3 separate regions of the Homo sapiens genome follow, and regions 1 and 2 are each linked to region 3. Evidence: fine-mapped expression QTL. A gene starts in region 3. Each other region holds a variant in brackets. All regions are shown on one strand. Distances are between the middles of the regions.

Region 1 (8,184 bases), 99 kb after region 3:
GAGCAGTTTGTCTCTCCAATAAATTGGGTATTGCCGTAAAAAGTGATCTCTCACACAAGCCACTGTTGCAGCAATGCCAGCAGACATGAAGACCTTGCACTTTTTGTAAAATACATTTTTATCTCATATTGAAAATGCAGCTTTTAGTGGCACCAGGACTGCTCTAAGAAAGGCACGCCCTGTAGTCCCAGCTACTTGGGAGACTGAGGTGGAAGCATTGCTTGAATTCAGGAGGTTGAGGCTGCAGTGAGCCATGATCACGCCACTGCACTCCAGCCTGGGTCCCTAAAAAAAGAGAAAGAAAACACAAAGACATGCCTATAGGCTGTAATATGATTTGAGAGAAAGCAAAGTCATCGTATGAAAACTTTACACAAACGGTGAAGAATCTAAAGCTGGAGAACTCTATGTCAGCAAAGGACGGTTTAATAATTTTAGAAAAAGGTTTGGATTTAAAAATGTCAAGATAACAGGAGAAGCAGCTTTTGCTGATCAAGAAGGAGCAGATGAGTTCCCACACATCATTAAGAAAATCACTGAGGAGAAAAGATACTGCCCGAAAAGGTTTTTAATAGATGATTTTAGTAGATGAAAGTGCCCTATCCTGGAAAAAAATGCCACAAAGAAAATTTATTATTATAGTAAGGAAGAGAAGTGAGCACCAGGATTTAAGGCAGGAAGGGATAGGCTAACTCTACTATCATGTGAAAACGTAGCCAGGTTTATGATCAGGATTGTCCTCACCTATAAATCTGCCAATTCCTTAGCCTTGATGGAAAAGATAAACACAGGCTTCCAGTTTTAAGGCTGTACAATAAGAAGGCCTGGACAACAAGAACTATTTTTTTCTGAACTGGTCCCATTGGTGCTTTGTCTCTGAAGTCACGCAGTACCTTGCCCAGTAAGAGACTGCCTTTTATTACACATGCCCCTGCCCACCCAGAACACCATGAGGTCAACACTTAAGGCATCAAAGTGGTCTACCTACCCCCAAACACGACATCTCTAATGCAGTCTCAAGATCAGAAGGTCATAAGGACCTTTAAGGCTCATTAAACACAGTACTCTATGAAAAAGATTATCAACACTATGAAAGAGAACCCTGATAGAAACAACATCATGAAAATTTAAAGGAATTATCTTCAATGGCATAATTCAATTGAAGATGCCATCATTTTAGAAAAAGCCATGAATACCATTGAGCAGAAATAAAAAACTCCTGCTGGAGAAAACTGTCTAGATATTGTACATGACTTCACATAATTTACAACAGAGCCAGTCAAGGAAATTATAAAAGAGACTATGCATATGGCAACAAAAAAATGTGGGAGGTGAAGGATTTCAAGATAAGAATCTTGGAGAAATTTAAGAGCCACTAGATACCACACCAGACGAATTAACAGAAGACAACTTGATGGACAGGAGTGTTTCCAAATCAATGACAAATCATGAGGAAGAAGACATAGAAGATGCAATGCCCGATAACAAATTGATGTTAGATAATCATGCAGAATGGTTCTGATTATTCAGGACTGCTTTTGACATTAATGACATGGACTCTTTTATGATATGAAACTAAAGCAAACAGTGGTAGAAGGATTGGTACTATATAGAAACATTTTTTAGAGGAAAAAAAGTCAGATGTGTTTTCGTAAAGTTATGCCAAGTGTGCCCGCCTCCCCTGCCTCCCCTTCCACCTTCCACATCTGCCACTCCTGAGACTGCAAGACCAATCCCTCCTCCTCTTCCTCCTCCTTAGCCTACTTGATGTGAAGATGAAGAGTATGAAGACTTTTATGACAATCCCTTCCACTCAATGAACAGTAAATACATTTTCTCTTTCTTATGATTTTCCTAATAACATTTTCTTTTCTCTAGCATACTTTATTCTAAGAATACAGTATATAATACCAATAGCTTACAAAGTATGCATTAATCGAATGTTTATGTTATTGTTAAGGCTTCTAGTCAACAGTAGGCTACTGGAAGTTAAGTTTTGGGAGAGTCTACACTTATACAAGGATTTTTGACTGCACTGGGGTCAGCTCCCCAACCCCCATGTTGTTCAACTGTATTCATATCTAACACATATTGAGTACTTACTATGTACATGAATTTTCAGTGTATTAGCTCATCTAATCTTTGTAATAACTCTGTGAAGTAGATTTTATAGATTATGAAGCTACTTTATAGATTTTATAAAGTGTTTTATAGACTAGGAAATTTAAGCAAAGATAAATAATGTGATCAAAATCATACAAGTAGTAAGAGGTAGGACTAGATTTAAACTCAGACTGACTCCAAAATCTATGCTTATAAGAACTACGTCAGACAGCATACCACTATCTGGATATATTTAATTTATTAAACTAAGCCCTCTACTGATGGATAATTAAATTAGTCAGTTTTATTATATATAAAATAACTTTTAAAAATTCTTGATATACATCTTTATGTACTTGCCTATTTATTTCCTCTGAGAAAATTCTTACAAAGAGAACTGCCATTATATGCATTTAAAATTATAGATTGTGGTACAATTGCTAATCTGTCCTCCAAAAAAAGTTTACCAATTCACAACCCCTCCATTAGTTTATAGAAGTGCCTATCTATTGACATCATTTTTAGCACCGAGTTTTGTCAATATTTTCCTTTTCTGATACTTGAGCATTGAAAAATAGGATTCTCATTTTTTTGCATTTGTTTTCAAATGGTGCTTATTGAGCTGTTAGTGTCTAATGAGCTGTCTGATTCCCAATTGCTGCATTTCCTCTGTTAAGCCTTGGCTTTGACCCTGCTTTTTCCTCTTCATCAGTTTGTCCCAAGGAGACAAGCTTTTTGGTTACGCTTCCTTTCAGAACAGAAAGCATTCTTCAGGATACAGGATTACTCAGAATCTCTCCTAAACCACATGTTCTGATTAGGATGTGCTTACCTGAGTGACTAAGATACTAATTTCAGAGCTGCTATTCTTTCCCCTTTTTATGCTCCAGAATCTGCTTACTTCTTCTCTCCTTTCTAATCAATGAATTTTCTAATAAAGACACTGCATGACTGGCAGTAACCTACCATTTTTTCCAGGCCTACATAATCTTCTACTTAGAGTGTGTGAGCTTCTAAGCTTGTTACACTATTAAAAGTGACTTGCATGGTCCATTTAAAAGCTGTGGTATGGTCAAAGAACTTTAGTCTAGAAACCACAACACAATTTTTAAGACAATACTGTCTTCCTTTCTTTTTTCTTTCCTACCTTTTCCTGCCTTCCTTATTTCCTTCCCTTCTTCCATTCTCTCCTTCCTTCATTTTGAGACAGCCAGGTGGGAGGGGGTCCCTGGAGAAACCCCAACCAGGCTGCCCACTGAGGTGGAGCCTCGGGAAGTTCACGACATTTGCAGCAGGAAGGAGCCTGTGAGGAACCTGGGATAAGGGCGGGAAGCACCCTAGCAGGGACTCTGGCCTAGTCCCTGTTTTCCCCTTTTCTTCCTTTTCACCCAATAAAACCCTACTTCGCACACCCTTCAAACCATCTGTGAGCCTAAATGTTCATGGTCGTGGGATGCAACAGGACCCCCTCTTTAGGTGAACTAAGGAAAAGCCCTGCAACAGTTTTGGCACCCAATGTGGGGCTCGAGAAGTGGTGAGTAAAATGGGGACTCAAAACCTCTCACTGTTGCTTCTAAGCCTTTTCATACTCAGACTTCTGAGGTGGGGGAAACCATGTCCCCACCCACCCTGTCACTCCCAGGATTTTTCATGGCCTTTTCCTTCCTCTTTCAGGAGGGACCAGTAAGTAGCAGCTCCCCACCACTCCCCACTCCCTGCTGGGGCTGGGATGCATGGCCCAAGGGTTCTGCACAGCCTGCAGGCTGGTTCCCAGCCAGGCTGAGGCAGCCTTCCCCTTCACCAGCCAAGGTGTTTCAACTCTGTTGGACAGTAATTTAGCTTCATCTTTTCTCCCTGGTGGAGGAACCAGTTGCATAAGAATAAGAGGTTCTTCCCCAGGAATTAAAAAAATTTTTTTTTCTTTCCTCTTCTCCACCCTGTCAGCAGTTAACTTTTAAAGTTTTTTTTCCCCCGTTTACTAGACCAGGTCCCCCAACTATCACTGTTCATATTTTTCATAAAGCTTTAATTATGAAAAAGGATTTGTGGAGCTAGTCTTGGACTGTGGCCACTCTGGTGTGCTTTGCATGTCTGTATCGCTTGTCCTGCAAGACTCCATCTTGCTTTACATCCTTGGGGCATGGCCAGTAACCCCTTGGCAAAGCTTTGTTTAGCAATACTGCCTTAGAGGATGAGTCCCCTGTGGTTCATATCTGCATGTTTTCCTAGCTCTGTCTCCTAGGGGACCTCACCCAGTGACTGGGTTTTCTTCTGCCTTTCTGTGTATGTACTGTGTGTGATGTCTATAAAAACAGCTCTAATTAATTTGGCCTAAAGAAAGACAAGTGCTTGGATCTAACATTTTTTAAAGGGAAGTTAAGAGCTGTGGAATCTTTCAGTTCATGTGACTTTAATCTTTGAGAAATAAAAGCAGCCTTAAAGACGATTGGTAAAATGTAGTTG[T/C]CATTAAAATGTAAATAGATAAACTAAACTATGTAGGTCAGATGCAAGGTTTGCTGAATATTTTAAGGTTACAAACTGCTTTTTGGGTTTTGAGAACTGTCTGTCTTGTCTGCTTTACAATTGTTTAGGCCTGGGGACATATGGAACTAAACATGCCCTTAACTAAGAAGGCAAACCTTGGATGCACTTAGCACACAATTAAAGCAACTTACCGAATTTTATCTTAAAGTTAAAAATTGATAGGAGTTATCACTATAACATGTAATTGAGACTACTGAAAATAGATTTATGTGCAAGGTGTGCAAGAACAGTAAAACGTGTTTTTTAGTAAAAGGTTTTAAGAAGGCATGGAAATGTAAACTTTTGCCTAGGGTTAAAGGATTGTTTTGAGTTAAATTAGGAAAAAGCTGAAAGTTCAAAAAGTGGTGGAGGAATTGTGGAAATTAATCTTGCAGAAGAGGATCTCTATGTGAACATATTGACTAAATTCAAAAGAGTTATAAAAAGTTTTTGCTTCTTTAAAATTTCCGAGTCATCATCATTTTAGCAAAATAAATAACTTATGGTAATCTGGAATACTATTTCACAACATCAAGTGCTTTAAACATATTTTACAGCCTTCCCCAAATCAAACTTCAGTTTGAAAATTACCTTCCCTGACATCTGGCTTTTCAGATAGTCCAGAGAACCCCTGGAATGTCCAGAAAAGAGAGGTAAACAGGATTATTTGACATATTTAGGTATATGAAATTTCCAAAATGATGTTCAATCTTCTTTAGGTTATATATTGGTGAATAATGCAAACATATGTTCCAAAATTGTATGGGATTTCTAGAATTTTAATGTCTGAGTATATGCTAACAATCATAATTAGGGTTGTTATGTTATTGTAAGCTACAGAGATAACCAAACGTATTTGTCAATCGTGTTTTTAACTATGACTACCCTGGACATTTTGCTATTCAGACAATTGTTGTTTTGTTTTAATCCTTTTCAAAAGATGGCTTATAGTAAGCTATAGAACTTTAACAGGTGCTCCCAAATACAGGCTTCTGAAAACTTTGGAGATTGTGATATTGGAATAAAGGAAAATGTACAGGTCTCATGAAGAGCTGAAATGCTCATGAATATCAAGCAAAACAAGAGTTCACAAATGAACTGAACTCAGAAAGCTGAAGCAACATTTTTGACTTTTGCTTGGAATACTGCTGATCCATGTTTTGTTTTTCAGAGTCAAGGAAACTTATTTTGAACTATTTATGGCCTTTAATAATTAAGTAAGGTGTACACTCGTGTGATCAAAATTTGGAGCATGTTTGTTTCTCTCTGCCTGGCTCCCCTAGAATTTGGAAACTATCTGTGAGTTTTCTTATGGCAATATAAATAGTTGCATCAGTGCAGTAAGAATCCATTTTTCTCTTGCAACAGAACACAACTGGAGAAAACGGTTGTTTTACCAAGGCTTTGACTGGAAGGATATGCTTCCCTTTAAGGAGTCAATTTTGACCTGCAGAGCCAATAAAAGCCCACTGGAGGAACTGTCCTCCTACCCTCATCTACACAGTCCATGTACAGGGTTCCTGACCTGTGGTTAGTAAAGAATGTCACTTTCTAGCAGGTCAGGAGCTCCAAGTTTATCTTGCAACCTTAAGAGGAGAGGATCACCCAGCTCACAGGTATTTGTGGATACAAACCCATGGTTGGGCTCAGCTTTAAAATATTTTATCTGAGATTCCTCATGGAATAGAATTCCATCAAAGCCAATCCAAAAGGCCTACATAGAAATAATTATTCTTGCTGCACTTTATGCAAATAATCAGGCCAATTATAAAACTTAAGTCTATTTTGCAAACCACTCAGTCCTACAATGATTTGTTTTTTAACAAACATGAGGACTACAGAGAGAAAAATCATGTTTCAAAACTTATCATACATTTGTCATTAAATTCTAAACTCATTATTAGTTTTTAAGTTTTTGCCTACATTTTAGACTAACCCTGCTTGCTCCTGTGAACTGCAGCCATCGCTGGCTGCAGTTCGGAAAGAACAAAAGGGATGGGTAGTGTAGAAATCCAGATCAATGTTCTAGTTCTGAGCAATTATCCTGCAAATACTGCCAGGCAACTGGAATAAATAGAATGCCCGTCACTCAGAGGCTTCCTTTTGGGAAAGTAAAACCAAAGGAGCTAACCAAAGCTAAGTACCATGCACCCAAATCCTAGCAAGCTTAACTATAGCTACCAGTTATGAAAGTTATGTCACAAGACATCCTTTCCTCTCCCTTGGAGGAGGACTCAGTTCCACAGTTTCACCTTAGCATTTGGCTTATGATAAGGAGTCCGTGCAACCCCCCTCCCTCCTACCCCTGAGATACATTTTTCTCCCAGATGCAACTCCAAGCTTCGAGTCAAGGCCCTAGGAAACAAAATTGGATCTGAGGGATCCAGAGGCAAATAACAACAGAGGTTAAAAGGCACAGGGCAAGTGAGCATGGCTGATTCCTGCCAAATAAGCCAACACTAAGCTTCCTGTTTCATGGATAAAGACCACGTTAATATTCATGGCATAAATGAGGTCTAGGGAATTCGAAGGCCACTGACAGTAGGAAGGAAAGAGACACAGGTGAGAATGGATAATTCCTATTCTCTAGGGCCCCGTTTCATGGGTGCAAGTTGCTTTGACACCCACGGTGGCACGTGCCAAGGTCACCAGAACTTGGGGATGCAAGGATGGAAGAGGGAAAATAGACACTCTTCTCTCTCTCTCCCTCACTTACCACTGTGTATCTGCTGGGAAGAGAAGGGAACCAGGGACGCCTGCTTCCCTCTTTCTAAATGGGTAGCCATTCATCTTCAGTTTGTACCCCTTTCGAATGCATCCTGAACCCTTGGGACGCCTTTTAAAAATGCCTTCTTTTTCCTTTCTTCTACTTGGTTTTCTCTTCACTAATAGGTAATTGTGTCTCCATACTATGCGACACTCCCCTCAGATGCATCCTCCAAACTGGAAAGAGTTAATTTCCCAAACCTTAAACTGGTTGGGTTAGGATAGGGCCCAGTGGAAGGGAACCCAGAAGCCCAACATGCTGGCCAAAGGGTAAGGTTTTTTTGCCAGTCGGGATTTTGGCTTCCCTCTCCTTGTGCAAACTGGTAAAAAGCCTTGGAATTTTTGAGCTGTCCTTCCCCGCACCTTGTTTCATTTTGATACATGTTTTCTAATAACCTGGTTTGTCTGTTCTTGCCTTCAGGCCATCAAACTCCAAACTGTCATGCAACCAGAGCCTCTGACAATGGGCCCTTCTGCTGGGGACCCTTAAATAGGCCTCTGAGGGAGCTCTGTCATTTCCCCAAAACAGCAGTGCCCCCTTTCAGCAGGAAGCAGTTAAGATGGGTCTTTGTCCTTATCCTGAATCTAACAGCAGCTAGATGTATTTCTTTAGAGGAGAGAATGACACAGCCAGGTGGGAGGGCGTCCCTGGAGAAAGTCCAACCAGCCTGCCCAGTGAGGGTGGAGCTTAGGGAAGTTCACGACGTTTGCAGCAGGAAGGAGCCTGGATCCTCCCCTTCCTGTGTGAAACCTGGGATTTGAAGAACTGCTGGGTGGAAGTGCTCTAGCAGG
Region 2 (8,184 bases), 150 kb after region 3:
GATGTTTTTGCCCATAGCTCTCTACGTTTATCACTGAAAAATAAGACAGATCTGCTAAGACGACTGATAAAGGACAGAGGCTGGAATTGTGATTGCATTAATGGAACCTGACTAGAGAACTTCACAAATGCCCAAATCTTATCCTGCCATTCACTCCTGATGCTGACATTTCCAGAAGAGCTACACATAGGAAGACTGATAGCAACTGGGAACCAAAATGACAATTATCTTTCAGAGCTTGGTAAGGTTGGGTAAGAGCATATGGTTCATTCTTAAGGCCTAAGAAAGACACTCCCTCCCTACCTGCCCCTCTTCCCCACACATCTCAGCTTCTCCTCAAAATCTGGACTCTCTCTATTCCATCCCATAGAGTGGAAACAAGAAATGCAAAAGGAGCACCATCCATGGGCATGGTCTTTTTATGGTTGATCTGGCCATCGATAAACATGGCCAACCAATACTTTAACTGACCAAACATGAATGGCAAGCCATTCTTCCCTAAAGGATGTGGGAGAACGAGAGAGAGGGCCAATAGGGAAGTAGGCAGAGAGGCAGAAGCATTTCTTCCTCTATAACATATTCACCCTATTTCCATAAAAATGTTCTATTTGAAATCCTATACAGAGAAGTTTATGAAATTGATTTGGCTTCCTTTAGTAAACCCTAAAGTAAAAACGCTTAGAAAAATGATGAAATAAGGTTTAAATATTTAATTATAGGAGAATTTTTAACATTTCAAAAAATACAATCCTATGGAAAGAAAATTTGATCTGATGTGGCTCTATTTTTTCAAGCAGACTCTTGTAACCCTGGATCTCCTTACACAGACTATAGAGCTAAATATAAACATTAATTAAAATAATTTTCAAAGATTATCTTGCTTACAGATTTAACTGAAAGTGTAAACTAAAGAAAAGGGATCAAAGAGTAGAAATGCATTTACAGGAATGGCATTAACTTAAGGAAAATGATCCTGGAAAATCAGAGACGGGAAGGGTGCTTCATGGAATCCAGTACAGAACCACAGCACTGTAAAATCAGTGCATTTGGGTAAGTGCTTATTGAGGGCCTGAAGAAATAACCTCACAGATGGTGGCCACCCTCTACTGGTCCATCAGTTTAGGGCACCTATCAACACCTATGAGCCTGCCAAGCAGAACTTTACAAGATCACTGACCCAACCATATGAAGGAGGTTAATAGCATATCTAGCAAAGGTGGCCACCCCCAGAGTCCTCCAAGCCTGCTGTGTGAGAAATGCCTGCACTGGATAATTTGCAAGTCCAGAAAGCCAATGCATCCAAACTCACTGACTTTCTTTTTACTACTCTAGTTACTTTGTTTGGATGACATAAGGAAAGAACATACTTTGCAGTAAGAACCAAAACTCTGACAAAGAAGGCCTTGAGTTTCAAGGATTCACAGGGCATTCTGCCATAAGGTAGAAAAGTTAGATGTTATAAATATTACTCTATCATAAGAAACTGATCCCTCACATTGGGCTCTACATCTAAAGGCACAGTCTTAGTTGCATAAAATTAAACTAAACTGTTACTGAACAGCTTTCTGTGTGGCTCTGTTTATCTTGCCTGCTTTCTGTACTATCTATGTCAACTTTATCTGATTTTTGTCCAGCTGGTATATTTGTGATAAGTTGGAACAATCTGTGCCATGTAAAGGGAGACTTAAAAAAACTTTGTCAGAATTGTCCCACATCAGTGAGGAAAGCCTGTTTGTAGGCAGTGTGTACAGGAGTGTGTGTGTGTGTGTGTGTGTCTATGTGTGTCTTTAATCAAGATACTCTTTTCAGCAGGAAATTAAAATCTTCTGGGTAATGAGCTCAGAAAATCTATACACACTGAACATATATTTCAGTATAAGAATGTTGTTGATGTCTCTCTGGAGCACTTCATTTTGACCCTATCACATAAAACAACTCTGAAATTGCTAGGAATGTAACTGTTTTCAGTCTTGCAGCATCAGTACCCAGAAGCATGTGTAGGTCAACTTCATGACTATCATAAATCTCTTCACAGCAATGCGAGAACTTGCTCTAGCCTTCTGGAGGGCAGAAATCTGGGTCTCTGGCTGGTTATAAGGCTTTTATTCTCATGTTTATCTCCTGGATGATGAATAAAAGGATCAGTGACCTCAGGAGATACTCCCTAGAAGGGATGTGGCTATTCCCTAATGGAATTACCAAATACCAGCATAGCTGGCTAAACCAGTTTGAAAACTACTTTTGTACAACTTTAAGTTTACAATTATTTTAAGAATTTAGATAGTACTGTGCAAATAAATGGAGAGAGCCCAAGGCAGAAAAAAACTACATACTCTATTAATTCATTCATTCAGTATTTCTAAAGCACCCCAATGTTCGTAGAACTACTTGCAGCAGCATGAAAGAGAGTAAGAAGCTGGACTGCAAAGTAGAACACATGGTCTGGAATACACAAGTCACCTTTTCTCTGATCAGCTGGAAATTACTCTGCTCCTCTGTCAAAGCATAAACACATTCTTGGGATGGAGAGGAATGCTGGAGCTTCCAAGGTTGATGTGTTAAAGCAGCCTTATCCAGGGGACAGCAGCTTTTTCCTTTGTCCCCTTATGTAGTCTGGTTGAAACTGCAGAATAATTTGAAATGTGGACTAAAAATAGTGCACAAAGGAAACTTAGAAATCTCAGAAGGAGAGATGAGGAAAGGCCTTGAGAAATCACTGCACTCCTTGCCTTACAGCAAGTCTATATTTATCATAGATTTAAAAAACTTTATTATTGACTTTCCTTTAAAGTTTTGGGTAGAATGTACAGTGTTTTTAATTTTTATTTGCCAATTAAAAAAATACAAACATAAGTCAGAAAAAAATAAATGCAACTATTAAATTTACTATTAACTGCTTTCCTTTACCTAGATTTTTTGAAGGAAAAATCTTTAAAAATCATTAAAAAATCAGGTTCTCATTAAAAGATGCTAAAAATGACTGAACTCTGGTTTCACTAAAAGAAGATTATTATATATTCATTATTTTTCCTGCCTTGGAGATTGAAACAGTCTCTCTAAGCCTCTAGCACCATCTTCCTTACAGATTTGTTGACTGGACTGGCTTCACCTTTCCTGTCTTTGCAGACTACTTCTTTTGAAATAAAAATCAGTAACTTTCCATTTCAAATAAAACAAAGTAGGCTATGAAAACTGCCATCATTTAGATTTGGATTGTAGGCCTCCATAACAGCTAGTACAACCTTATAGTTCAGAGAAAAGCAAAAGAGCTTCAAAAATACTTCAGGAGTGTGCATATGGCGAGATGGGAGCAATGGTTAAAAATCCTTAAAATTCTCCAAAATTAAAAATGCCATTAAGCTTTACTATAAAATACCTCAAATTAATGTGTTCCTAATTTTAGCATTAAATGAAGCTGGTCTATTGAGTAGGACTATTTGCATAATGATGGCAAAAAAAAAATCAAAGTTTTAGGGAAGCAAAATTGATCAGAAATTTAAATTATAATTCCTGAGTAGCTTCTGACTAATGCATCTGAATAAATCAGAACCATCCCAGTCCTCTTATTCAACAGTAGAAAAAGAATTATGGAAAGACTTTGGGGGAAATTTACAATATACCCTTATGGTTTCTCAAAACATTTGTCTCAAAATAACCACACTGAAGGAGGGAGGTGAATATAGGTTCCCAGTAACACTGAGAATTTAGCCTGAATTCGCAGGCTGCAAGCACAAAGGTTTTGTTCTGTTTTTTAAGGTTTCCCATTTCCTCTTTAACATTTATATGCATTTTGCCATAAAATGTAAATCTCCATTTTAAAATATGTTGTACATTACTGGCCAATTATAATAAAATTATGTTGCCACCATATTAGTTAGGCTACAGGCAAACGTGCTGTGTATAGCCTAAACTGACCCCAAATTTAATAACTCAAACAAGATATTTTATTTCTGTCAAGGGCATGGAGACAGCTGTGTTCTATAAGTATATTCAGGGACCCAGGTTCCTTCCATCTTGTTGCTCCCTACCTCTTAAGCATTAGCATTCTTGTCTGCTCAAAGCTGACTCAGCTCCAAATCTGGGTTTCAATCACAGAAAG[A/G]GGAAGACAACTGGAGATGAATGATCACTTCCATTCACAATTCATTAGCAACACTTAGTTCCACGGCTGCAGTAGCTGCAAAAGAGGATAGAAAATGTAATTTCTTCTACTTCTGGCAAAAAGTAGAAGTGATGCTATTGAAATATATACAACGTCCATCTTACGACTTTTTGTGTTCCCTACCAACTACTTTATTTCTCTAGGGATGCTCCGGTTTAGAGAGCATAGTATAAAGCAGGGTTCTGCATCCTTTCTTTCTATAAAGGGCCAGGTTTTAGGCTTTGTGGGCCATATGGTCTCTGCTGCAACTACTCAACCCTGCTGTTGTTCAAAAGCAGCTACAGACCATATGTAAACAATTGAGCATGGCTGTTGTTTTAGTTATCTATTGCAGCGTAACAAATTACTACAAAGTTAGAGGTTTAAAACAACAGAGTTATCATCTCACAATTACCATGGGTAGAGTTCAAGCATAGTTTAGTTGGGTCCTTTGTTTAAAATCTCACAAGGCTGCAATAAGAGTCAGTTGGACTGTGCTCTCATCCAGAAGCTTAACAGGGAAAAAAACAAAACAAAGCCAAACAAAAAAACGACAAGAAAACCCATTTCCAGGCTAATTCAAGGTTGTTCGCAGAATTTATTTCATAGAGGCTATAAGGCTAAGGGCCTCAATTTCTTGCTGGCTGTTCTCCCTCAGCCCCTAGAGGTCACCCTCAGTTCCTTGTCATGTAGCCCTATCCGCAGCCTCTCTTATAACATGGTATTATTTCTTCAAAGCAAGGAAGGGAGAAAGTCTCAAGAGTGAGTTTGGTAGCAAGACAACTGTGTTCCAATAAAACTTTATTTACAAAGACAAGTGGTGGGTCATGTCCATCATTTGCTGATCCTTGGTATAATGAATAAAGTGTAGAAGACATTATTTACGGTAAGAAGAAATCAAAGTTCACTGAGTAGAGAAAAAGATTTCTCAGAGCCAGAAGAGCCACGTGGAAAGGTACTCAGAAGAAAGTATTTTTTTCATTCTGGTCCCATAATACATGTATTACCTCATTTTTTAAATAAAAAATAAAAGCAGAATTGGCATTGTGTTAGAATCTGTGATTATAAAATGGAGTTGTTATTAGAATGCCAAATAAGTTTAAAGTGAAGGGGCTTCATAGCAAGCTTTCTACAATTTTGACTCTAATTCAAACTTCACCTGGAAAAATTTCAACAGAGAGTCTGCTTATTTTCTTAATGATTATAAAAATGTCAGCTAATGCTTATTATATGATTGAGATTCAAGGATTATGCTAAATGTTTAACATGAATTTCACTTAATCTTCAAAACACTCATGTTAGTTAGATTATTATTCCTATTACAAAGATAAGTAAAGTGAACTTTCACAAATTAACTTGCTCAACACACACACACAAAGTAGAAGAACAAGGATATAACCTTTGCACTGTCCTGAGAAACCAGATCGTTAAATTTTACTTAATGTGTAATAGGATCCTTTGAAGGGTTTTAGGCAGGGAGATGGTATAATTAATAGGTTATTTTTTAAAAATTAGCTCTGTACAACGACTGGACTGGAGGAGGGCTAGAATGGAAGAAAGGTGGTCCAGGGCAAAGTTGATGGCAGCTTGGACAGGGTAGTGCCCTGGAGATACACTTGCAATACATTTTGGTGGTAAAAACGACAAAACTTGTAAGAGAATGGCTCCCTGTCTACCTAATTGTAGTGCACTCCACTATGCCATCTGTTCACTACACTCTAGCCACACTGACCTTTTGGTTCCTGAAATGCGCTAAGCCTTTCCCATCCTCTGAGATTTTGCATGGGCCATTCTCTCTAGAATGCCTGTCACTCTATTCTACTATTGTGCCATCTTAACTCATCATATTGGACTCAGCTCAAATCTCACTCCTCAGAGAATCCTTCCTTGATGCCCCAGTCCAAGTTTGGTTCCATCATTAATTTTCTCTGAATAGAATCCAATTATATTTTGTCCCATATTTGTTCATTTATTCCATATTTGTTTACTTTTCACTAACACATTACATTTCAAGAGGCCAAGAACTAGTTTTGCCTATCACTGTAAACATGGTACCTAGCATACACAGTTCCTGCCACCATATTCACCATACTCAGCAGTGATTACTTGTTGAATAAATAAATGCCTGACTTCGAAGCCCTTACACTTGAATACTGAGTTATTGGCTCTCATATTTGATTTTTAAAGAGATTTCCTTTTCAATCCTTCTATAGTTATCAAAGTGACATATCTCAATATGTCCCATCACTCTTCCTAAACAAACACTGACCTCAGGTTATAAAAAATGTTGAGGGTGAAATGTATAGAAGGAAGAAGGGGCTGCTGAAGGTGGCTTGAGGCAAGTGAGTTCTCATTCATTGTTTGTGGGAGTACAAATTAATATAATCCTTTGGAGAAACAATTTAGCAATATATATCAAAGGCCTTGAAATAAATATAAATGTATTTTTGAAAATACACAAGAGGTGTGTATATTTGTATTATAAGATGTCTGGTTTTTTGTGTGTTGAGATGGGGTTTTGCTCTGTTGCCCATGCTAAAGGGCAGTGGCATGATCACAGCTCACTACAGCCTCAACTGCCTGGGCTCAAGCAGTTCTCCCACCTCAGCCTCCCAAGTAGCTGGGACCACAGGTGTGTGCCACCACACCTGGCTAATTTATTATTATTATTATTTTTTTTTTTTTTTTTTTTTTTTTTTGTAGAGACAGGACTCACTATGTTGACCATGGTGGTCTCAATCTCCCGGGCTCCAGCAATCTGCCCACCTCAGCCTCCCAAAGTGCTAGGATTACAGACATGAGCTACTGCACCCACCAAATGTCTGCAGTATTAGGTAGGTACTTCCAGGAAGTGAGATGGCAAAATGGTGCAACTTTGTTTTAATGGGCAGCTATATATATATGTATGAGAAAAGGTCTCATTCTGTCACCTAGGCTGAAGTGCAGTGGGATGATAGAATGACTCGCAGCCTCAACCTCCTGGGCTCAGGTGATCCTCCCACCTCAGCCTCCTGAGTAGCTGAGACTATAGGCATGCACCACCAAGCCTGGATAATTTTTGTATTTTTTTATAGAAATAAGGCTTTGCCATGTCGCGTGGGCTGTTCTCAAACTCCTGGGTTCAGGTGATCCTCCTGCCTCAGCCTCCCAAAGTGTTGGGATTACAGGCATAAGCCACCACACCTGGCCTTGTTTTTTTATAATGAAAATCCGATTAAAGATGAAAATAGAAAATAAATCTTCATACTTTTGACATAGCAACTCTACTTCTAGGAATCTATACTAATAATATCACGAGAGATGTGGTCTAGGGTTTATGTATAATTATATTTATCAGTGAGTTCCCTACGTTCAAAAATTTGAATAATCTAAATGTGCCAAAATTTGGACAATTTAATTATTTTGAGAAATATAAAGTATATAAAGTATAGATCATTCAAATGATGAACTATTTAATATACATTAAAATTATGTTTGGGCAATAAAGATATGAAAAATGTTCATGCTGTAAGGGTACATAAAGCAAAGTATGAAACAGAATTTATGGCATTACTTCAATTTGTTAGGAAAGAAGAAAAAATGAACAAGAAAGATAAATGGATACAAAAAAACTGCAATAAATCTATCAAACTGTCATTAATGGCCATTTTTGGATGATAGGATTCTGTAAGTTTAGATTAGTTATTTATGATTTTTTGGTATTTCCCAAATAAAAATAATCATGATAATTTATAATTAGGGAAGAATTACAAATATAATTTGTAATAGATACAAAAATTAGTTCCTCTTTCTAACAAGCAATTCTGTCTATTCAATCCTCATGTCACACACTCGTGAAAGACATACAGTAACTTTATTTACCAAGATTGCAGTTCCAAGCCCCATTAATCTCATTTATCTTATTTTTATAAAAAAGTAACATGCATTTAATACTCTTTGGAAATGCCACATGTTCTTTGACTTGTGCATCATAACAACAGTAATGTCTTAAGAAAGAAAGTTATCTTCAACTAAATATTTCAGAAATAATTATCTTCTTAGTTGGC
Region 3 (8,173 bases):
GAGAATCCAACTATAATTGCCAACATTTTCCACTTCTGTTGTTTTAATTATTTCAAAATTCAGTAACTATAGGCATCCTGAAACAGTATGCATTCCCTTATATTGCTTCGAAATCTCATATCACCTTTTTGACTACATTTAGAAGGCACGAAGTTTGGACCTGGAAGCACAGGTCTACTCCTCTCCCATGGGAGACCAATAGCAAATGGAATCCAATGGAGCAGCTGCGACTATCACTTGGAAGCCCTCTGTGAGCCACTAACCCACCACTTCTCCTTTGTGGCTTCTTTTGAGCTTTAGATTTGTCCAGCAAACTACAGCATTTAAGCTCTTTCCTATTTTTTATTTCCTTTGATTCTTGTAACAATCCAGTAAGGCAGTAAGATTAGGTGTGTTCACCTCATGCTACAGATAAAAAAACTGAGGCCCAGAGATGTTAAGTCACTTGCCAAAAGGTCACCCAGCCAGTAAGTGGGAGCCTGCAATTCCAAGCCCACTGAGATCTTCTCTAGCTGCTTTTATCACCACTACTGACAAGTCTGCTGTTTCCAAGCCTTCACAATGGCTATTCCACAAAGTTGACTTGATCATTTCTGTGAATGCTTCTTTGGCCTTTTTCATGATATAAGCAGAAAGCTTTAAGTTTGAAAGGCATTTCCAAAAATAACGTTTACCTTATCTTCTTCAACTGCACTTTCAACTTACTCTCTGATCTGTTTCCATCTTTGGACGTTTCTGAATTTACACAAGCAGATGAGGAAAGCCCTCTGCCTCCCCATGGATAGATGAAGACATGCAAAAATGTTTTTAAGGCCACTCTTTATATAACAAAATGAGACGGGGGAAAAAATCTGTCTGAGATACCATTTTCCTGAAAGGTCAGATCCTACTTAACTTGTTAACAACCAAAAACCTGAACTCAAATATCATCCACTAAAAAAGAGTTCTTCCCAGTGAAAGAATAAGTAGCTTTCATGAGTCTAAAATAGCCAAGGACCTTCAGACATGAAAGAAGAATGATATTTGGGAGCTAAAAGTAAGGCTAAGAAGCAATGGATACATGTGAAAAATTTGCAGTTTTCCCAGTGAAACCAATGAATTGCTCTAGCTTTACTCTTTCCACGTTCCTTTTAAACTGAGAGGGCAGTTTAAATTGTAGAATGCCAAAGTCAATTGTAAATAGCTTCCTATTATAATACACATTTATTGGGAATATCCAGTCCCCCTAAATTTGGTAGCCTGGAAGGGTTTCATGAAATACTCATTGCCATGAAAAAAACACCTAATACACCCCCACCCCATTACTGGGGCCGTCTAGCCTGTGTTCAACTCCCACTGAAATCACCAAGTCAATGAGAGAAATTAAAACCATTTTATCCACAGGTGTACATTTTTGTGCAATTATATGTAGGGGGTTAAAAACGGTGTTCGGTAGAACCCCATACATAATCAAAATTGAAGAAAAATCAGTAGCTATTTTAGCATAATAAGGAAATGCAAATTTAAGAAAGAAAATTTTCATTAGCACATTTCCTTGGTGAATAGGTACTAAAATATATTTGAATGCAGGACACCCCACTGTTTGGGGAGCTTCACACATAAAAGGTGTGAGTTACAGCCAAATTTCCGGCTGTTTTTTGCTTCTCAGTTTCTACCCCTTAAAAGCTGATGGAGATAAATCTGGAAATATTTGAAAAGTATCACATTTGAAAATTATTTGATATCTTACCGTCTTGTACACTCTTTCCTTATGGTGAATTGCCTTGACTGCCTTTTATTACCAAGGGTATTTGTTGGATCACAGAATCTTTATTTCTTAAGAGATATTTGCTGCTTCTACTTAAGTCACAATCCTTTGTCACAGGACAATCATTTCCACAGCAACCAACTGTGATGTCACAATTGAAGGGAGGAGGACCCTTAGGAAGGAAAGAAAAAGAGAATGTACTTTTCAGGCTAAGGTTTCTGGGTTTTAAAACCATCACTTCAGAAATCAAAATATTTTAGCAGAAAAACCCCCATGAGAAAGCTTCAAGGTCTCGGCTGTGACAAAGACAACATTTCAGTAGAAGTTTAAGGTTGCGTGTTGTGGGCTTGGGAAGGGGTAGAGATCTTTATTTCCTTTCATTCTAATTCTGTGCCACTGATACCTGCCAGTAAAATACATGAAACATATTCCAGAAAGAGTTGATTTAGTAGATGAAAAATGCGTCTCCCGAGACCAGAGAAGGTACCTTTTCTGTCTTGCTATCATTTCCATAATAGGAACAATGTTTACATTTCCTCAGCCCATGCAGTGCCTCTAATGTATTCATGTTCTTTCACTCTCCAGAGGCAGGAATTGAGGTATTAGAGATTTTATTTTTTAGCGACTGCATCAAGCACTTAAGATCTGACAACTGTGATGTGTATTCTCACTTGGTATTAAAAAATAAAAGCTTCTGTGTTTGCATTTGATTAGAGTCACTCAGCTGGGTGGCTGATTAAGCAGGAATAGCGAAAGCACCTTCCTTCAGAAACACTGAATCCTGGTTAATGTAGTGTAAGATTACGGATGGGTGTAGTCACATAATTTTTATTAAATTGAAGAGATTAGCTCTGCTGAAAAATCCCACTGTGACAGCAAACTCTAGGTGCAATAATGGTACCTAACACTTCTCAAACCCACTACAGGGCCCCAAATGGTCTTATTTCTGAATCTTCTTTCAGTTCCAGTGAGAAAGCTTCATTCAAATATTCAGGATAGTTACCTGAAATTGAGTTTGCACTGTTTTTTTTTTTTTTTTTTTTTGAGAGGTGATGCAAAATCAGCACAAACATTTGTAGTCTGTGAACTTTAGCTATATTCTCTCAGTGTAAATAAAAATGACACACACTCTCTTTCCTCTAGTTGCTTAAAAGGCAAACACTTTTCCCCAGACGGAGGCTCCGGTGGCCACAAGGGGGCCGTCGGAAAAGATCCCAACTGGAAGCCCAGAGTGTGTGATTTGTTTGTCTAACATGCATAAAATTGTTGCCTCTTCCTCCAGACTCAGGATAACTTGGTTATCCCAGTTCTAGGAAGGGAAGGTTAAAAAGCCATAAAGAAGGAAAGAAAGATAACTTTTGAAAGCCAAAACCTCCCATATTCCCTGGAGTGAAGCAGAGTAGAAAGTGCAGGTACTGGAAAGAGTGAACAGCACTTTTCTTTCTTTCTTTTTTTGAAACGGAGTCTCGCTCTGTCACCCAGGCTGGAGTACAGTGGCCTGATCTCCCTTCACTGCAACCTCCACCTCCCAGGTTCAAACAATTCTCTACCTCAGCCTCCGGAGTACCTAGGATCACAAGCCCCCGCCACCGCGCCTGGCTAATTTTTTTTTTTTTTTTTTTTTTTTTTAGTAGAGACGGGGGTTTCACCATCTTGGCCAGGCTGGTCTTCAACTCCTGACCTCGTGATCCACCCGCCTCGGCCTCCCAAAGTGCTGGGATTACAGGCGTGAGTCACCGTGCCCGGCCTGAACAGCACTTTTTTAGACAACAAAGAAGGCTACAAATGGAGTCCATTTACATACTGCACACGAGGGGCTTGGGGAGGATTAATTGGTTAATGTTTGGCAAGCTGAGCTTGGAAGACAAGTTGTGCAGAGGTGCTGTTGTCACTTACTACTGTTATTAATTAACAAGGTGAATGCCAAGCAAAAACAAGCCTCGGGGTGTGCTTTCATTTCTTAACGCCATATGCGATGTCTATTGCAGGAGTGATTCGGGAAAGTTACCTCAAAGGCCACGACCAGCTGGTTCCCGTCACCCTCTTGGCCATTGCAGTCATCCTGGCTTTCGTCATGGGGGCCGTCTTCTCGGGCATCACCGTCTACTGCGTCTGTGATCATCGGCGCAAAGACGTGGCTGTGGTGCAGCGCAAGGAGAAGGAGCTCACCCACTCGCGCCGGGGCTCCATGAGCAGCGTCACCAAGCTCAGCGGCCTCTTTGGGGACACTCAATCCAAAGACCCAAAGCCGGAGGCCATCCTCACGCCACTCATGCACAACGGCAAGCTCGCCACTCCCGGCAACACGGCCAAGATGCTCATTAAAGCAGACCAGCACCACCTGGACCTGACGGCCCTCCCCACCCCAGAGTCAACCCCAACGCTGCAGCAGAAGCGGAAGCCCAGCCGCGGCAGCCGCGAGTGGGAGAGGAACCAGAACCTCATCAATGCCTGCACAAAGGACATGCCCCCCATGGGCTCCCCTGTGATTCCCACGGACCTGCCCCTGCGGGCCTCCCCCAGCCACATCCCCAGCGTGGTGGTCCTGCCCATCACGCAGCAGGGCTACCAGCATGAGTACGTGGACCAGCCCAAAATGAGCGAGGTGGCCCAGATGGCGCTGGAGGACCAGGCCGCCACACTGGAGTATAAGACCATCAAGGAACATCTCAGCAGCAAGAGTCCCAACCATGGGGTGAACCTTGTGGAGAACCTGGACAGCCTGCCCCCCAAAGTTCCACAGCGGGAGGCCTCCCTGGGTCCCCCGGGAGCCTCCCTGTCTCAGACCGGTCTAAGCAAGCGGCTGGAAATGCACCACTCCTCTTCCTACGGGGTTGACTATAAGAGGAGCTACCCCACGAACTCGCTCACGAGAAGCCACCAGGCCACCACTCTCAAAAGAAACAACACTAACTCCTCCAATTCCTCTCACCTCTCCAGAAACCAGAGCTTTGGCAGGGGAGACAACCCGCCGCCCGCCCCGCAGAGGGTGGACTCCATCCAGGTGCACAGCTCCCAGCCATCTGGCCAGGCCGTGACTGTCTCGAGGCAGCCCAGCCTCAACGCCTACAACTCACTGACAAGGTCGGGGCTGAAGCGTACGCCCTCGCTAAAGCCGGACGTACCCCCCAAACCATCCTTTGCTCCCCTTTCCACATCCATGAAGCCCAATGATGCGTGTACATAATCCCAGGGGGAGGGGGTCAGGTGTCGAACCAGCAGGCAAGGCGAGGTGCCCGCTCAGCTCAGCAAGGTTCTCAACTGCCTCGAGTACCCACCAGACCAAGAAGGCCTGCGGCAGAGCCGAGGACGCTGGGTCCTCCTCTCTGGGACACAGGGGTACTCACGAAAACTGGGCCGCGTGGTTTGGTGAAGGTTTGCAACGGCGGGGACTCACCTTCATTCTCTTCCTTCACTTTCCCCCACACCCTACAACAGGTCGGACCCACAAAAGACTTCAGTTATCATCACAAACATGAGCCAAAAGCACATACCTACCCCATCCCCCACCCCCACACACACACACACACACACATGCACACAACACATACACACACACGCACAGAGGTGAACAGAAACTGAAACATTTTGTCCACAACTTCACGGGACGTGGCCAGACTGGGTTTGCGTTCCAACCTGCAAAACACAAATACATTTTTTAAAATCAAGAAAATTTAAAAAGACAAAAAAAAAAGAATTCATTGATAATTCTAACTCAGACTTTAACAATGGCAGAAGTTTACTATGCGCAAATACTGTGAAATGCCCGCCAGTGTTACAGCTTTCTGTTGCAGCAGATAAATGCCATGTTGGGCAACTATGTCATAGATTTCTGCTCCTCCTCTCTTTTAATGAAATAACGTGACCGTTAACGCAAGTAACTCTTTATTTATTGTTCACCCTTTTTTTCCTTAAGGAAAGGACTCTTCCAAATATCATCCTATGAACAGCTCTTCAGAAAGCCCATTGAAAGTTAAACTATTTAACGTGAAATCCATTAACTGGAATAATTGAGTTTCTTTATTTTTACAATAAATTCACTGAGTAAATAAGTTGGAGCTGGAATTCTGAGCTTTGTGTTTGGACTGTCTGGTCTGTAGCTAAAGGAAAAAGTTAGGAGGGGAATATTTATTTAAATCTATCAGTTCATTGCCTGGTCAGGTCTCTGGCCTATAAACATGCAAAAAAACTAATTCATGTTAAAGTCCTTCCAGATCCTAATTTCTAAAGCAATCAGGAGAGAAAGCTTTTAGAATGGCACATCATATCTCATTGATGCCAACATGGTTTTGTCCATGGTTCTGACTTTCTGTGAAGGCACCAGCTTGCAATATGCCATCCCATTTCACCTTGCATGTGAGACAGCAAACAAAATCCACAAATGGTGTGAACTAATATGCTGGCTGCTACCTTGCATAAATTAATGATTTGATCACACGGGTTCTTCGTGGGGTTACATCTGTGAATAGCCTGTTTTCCACATGTAAATTTGTGCCTTACACCTTGAGTTGTGTACACTTGTAAACTCTTTATGATCAACTGTTCCCCCTTTTGAAATAAGTGCAGATATTTATTTAACCCTCCCTTCCCCACCCTCTGCCCCACTTCCAGCCCTCTGAAAGATTGGAGTCAAGCAGATGGAAGAATGCAGTGGTGATAGTTGTCATGCGACAGCCTGAGAACGCTGGGCAGCACCACACCCTCCAATTCACACTGCCTTCTAGTTGTGCCAACTGGAACCACCCTTTGGCTGTGCTGCGAAGCATGGACCCCAGTGTTGTTGTGGGTGTGTCAAATCCCCTTTCATCCTCAAGAGCTCCCTGCTTCCCTTAGATTATTTCAATACGGTGATATCCTTATTTGCTAGCAGAAAAGGGACTAACGTCCCATTCCTCTTTTCTGCTGCGTCCACTGGCTAGAGAGCAGGCGGTGCGCGGTTGGGCAGACACCTGGGAGGAGTCTCCAAGCCATGTGCACAGCACACACGTGCAGTGCACACAAAGAAATGACATGGAAATAGATGCAGGCAGGCTGGTCCCTGCTGTGATTAACGAGTAACTCCAAGTACAAGGCCGACCACAATGGATGCTGCAAAAACGTTGACTGGGGCAAAGGATTTTTTATTTTATTTTTTATTTTGTTAATTATGTTTTTAGGGGATGGGAGGTGGTGTGTGTTTTTCTCCTCTTGGTTTTCATTTGCTCAAGCACACAAAAGGGACTTTTGTTTACTCTATCATGAACAAAGGAACTGTCCACATACTGTAAACCATGAGCAGTGTTGTTGTTGTTTTTTTAAACAGTATATTTGGTGGTCTCTTTGTCTGCTTTTATTTCCAGTTCGATCTTCTGGGTTTAGTTTTGTCTTTAAAAAGAATTCAAAAAAAGACTGACAATGACAGTTTTGAGTTGGATAGTGAAAAAGTGGAGCCTCCATAATCAGTGTGGTTGCCTTCAGACCTGAGTACTTAGCTGAGGGTGGGTGAGAGCCCTTTGTTCCAAAAGTCCATTAGTTTTGCTGTTGTTTAGGAGTAGGTGGTTGTTGTTGTTTTTACTTTTTTTTTTTTTGGCTTTTGTAATGGAATCCATGTTCACATCCTGTGAACTCTGTCTCCTGAAACCCTGAAGTATTTCCTAGAACCTGAAATATTGTTTTCTTCCTTGAATTTTCTCTAGAAATGCAGAAATTAGGAAGGTGATGGGTCTGTATCCCCCTGCCCCCTTCTTTCCCATGCTTGACTCCCGAGAGTACTGGCAGTGCAGCACCCATCATTGACGTAAGCGGCTGTCTTGTCCAGTGTTTGTAGGCATCACTGCCTCAGCTGTTAAGGAGACCTGTGTCAAAACTTACATCCACATTCCTACACCCCCACAACCCATCACTTCTGGTGTTAACCCTAAAATACCCACATGTATTGAGCTGGTCTTCTGCATTTAAGTATTTCTCCCCAGTTTTTTTCCCCACTGTGTGTGGGGGGAGGGTCCATAAACCCGAGTGTGCCTTTGCTTTCCACCCTTGCTAGACACTGGTAGATGCAACAAACTCAGATTTATATTTGTTGTAAAGTTGTAAAAATATTGTGATGTCACCAATTTTCCTTCCATCTCCACATCCCCTAACATCTGATTCACGACTTAATGTATGTTGTAAGAAAAGAAAAAAGAAAAGAAAAAAAGGGAAAAAAGAAAAGCAAGGAAAAGGCTCTTTATTACTTAAAAGTAATAAAACCTGACTGTTCTATATTATCTTTTGTGTCCTGAATGCTTTTATTTATCTCTTAATTTTTCCTTTTTAAGCTGCTCTCCTCCCCACCCTTTGTGGGTATGATGCTACTCTTTCCTCCATTTGTATCTGGCTTCCAAAGCATACATAACGGTATAGTTTGATGTATTTGTTTGCAGTGTCCACACCCAGCCACCCCCACCC

Alleles and levels. Alleles are on the strand shown, and positions count from the first base shown. SD is a standard deviation of normalised expression in the study named. Not every link is listed here.
For the expression in monocytes of the gene that starts at base 4,049 in region 3, T is the high allele of the variant in region 1 and C is the other (moderate effect, 0.59 SD a copy in BLUEPRINT).

Evidence for each region. PIP is the estimated chance that this variant, and not a neighbour inherited with it, causes the effect.
Region 1: its variant is fine-mapped to the expression of SEMA6A-AS1 in monocytes (BLUEPRINT, PIP 0.91).
Region 2: its variant is fine-mapped to the expression of SEMA6A-AS1 in whole blood (TOPMed, PIP above 0.99). The same link has a PIP of 0.9 or more in blood mononuclear cells.

The regions. Positions count from the first base shown.
Region 1 is chr5:116,343,993-116,352,176 of GRCh38, reverse strand. No RefSeq gene overlaps it. Among named protein-coding and RNA genes, the nearest start is that of MIR12130, 92 kb to the right of the region's middle. The variant T/C (reference allele first, on the strand shown) is at 4,567.
Region 2 is chr5:116,294,237-116,302,420 of GRCh38, reverse strand. No RefSeq gene overlaps it. Among named protein-coding and RNA genes, the nearest start is that of MIR12130, 43 kb to the right of the region's middle. The variant A/G (reference allele first, on the strand shown) is at 4,100.
Region 3 is chr5:116,443,374-116,451,546 of GRCh38, reverse strand. It overlaps SEMA6A-AS1 (SEMA6A antisense RNA 1), which reads right to left and starts at 4,049. Exons shown (of 3, transcript NR_109879.1): 1 at 3,756-4,049; 2 at 1,730-1,919. SEMA6A (semaphorin 6A) reads left to right here. Exons shown (of 19, transcript NM_020796.5): 19 at 3,736-7,992. The coding sequence ends at 4,934.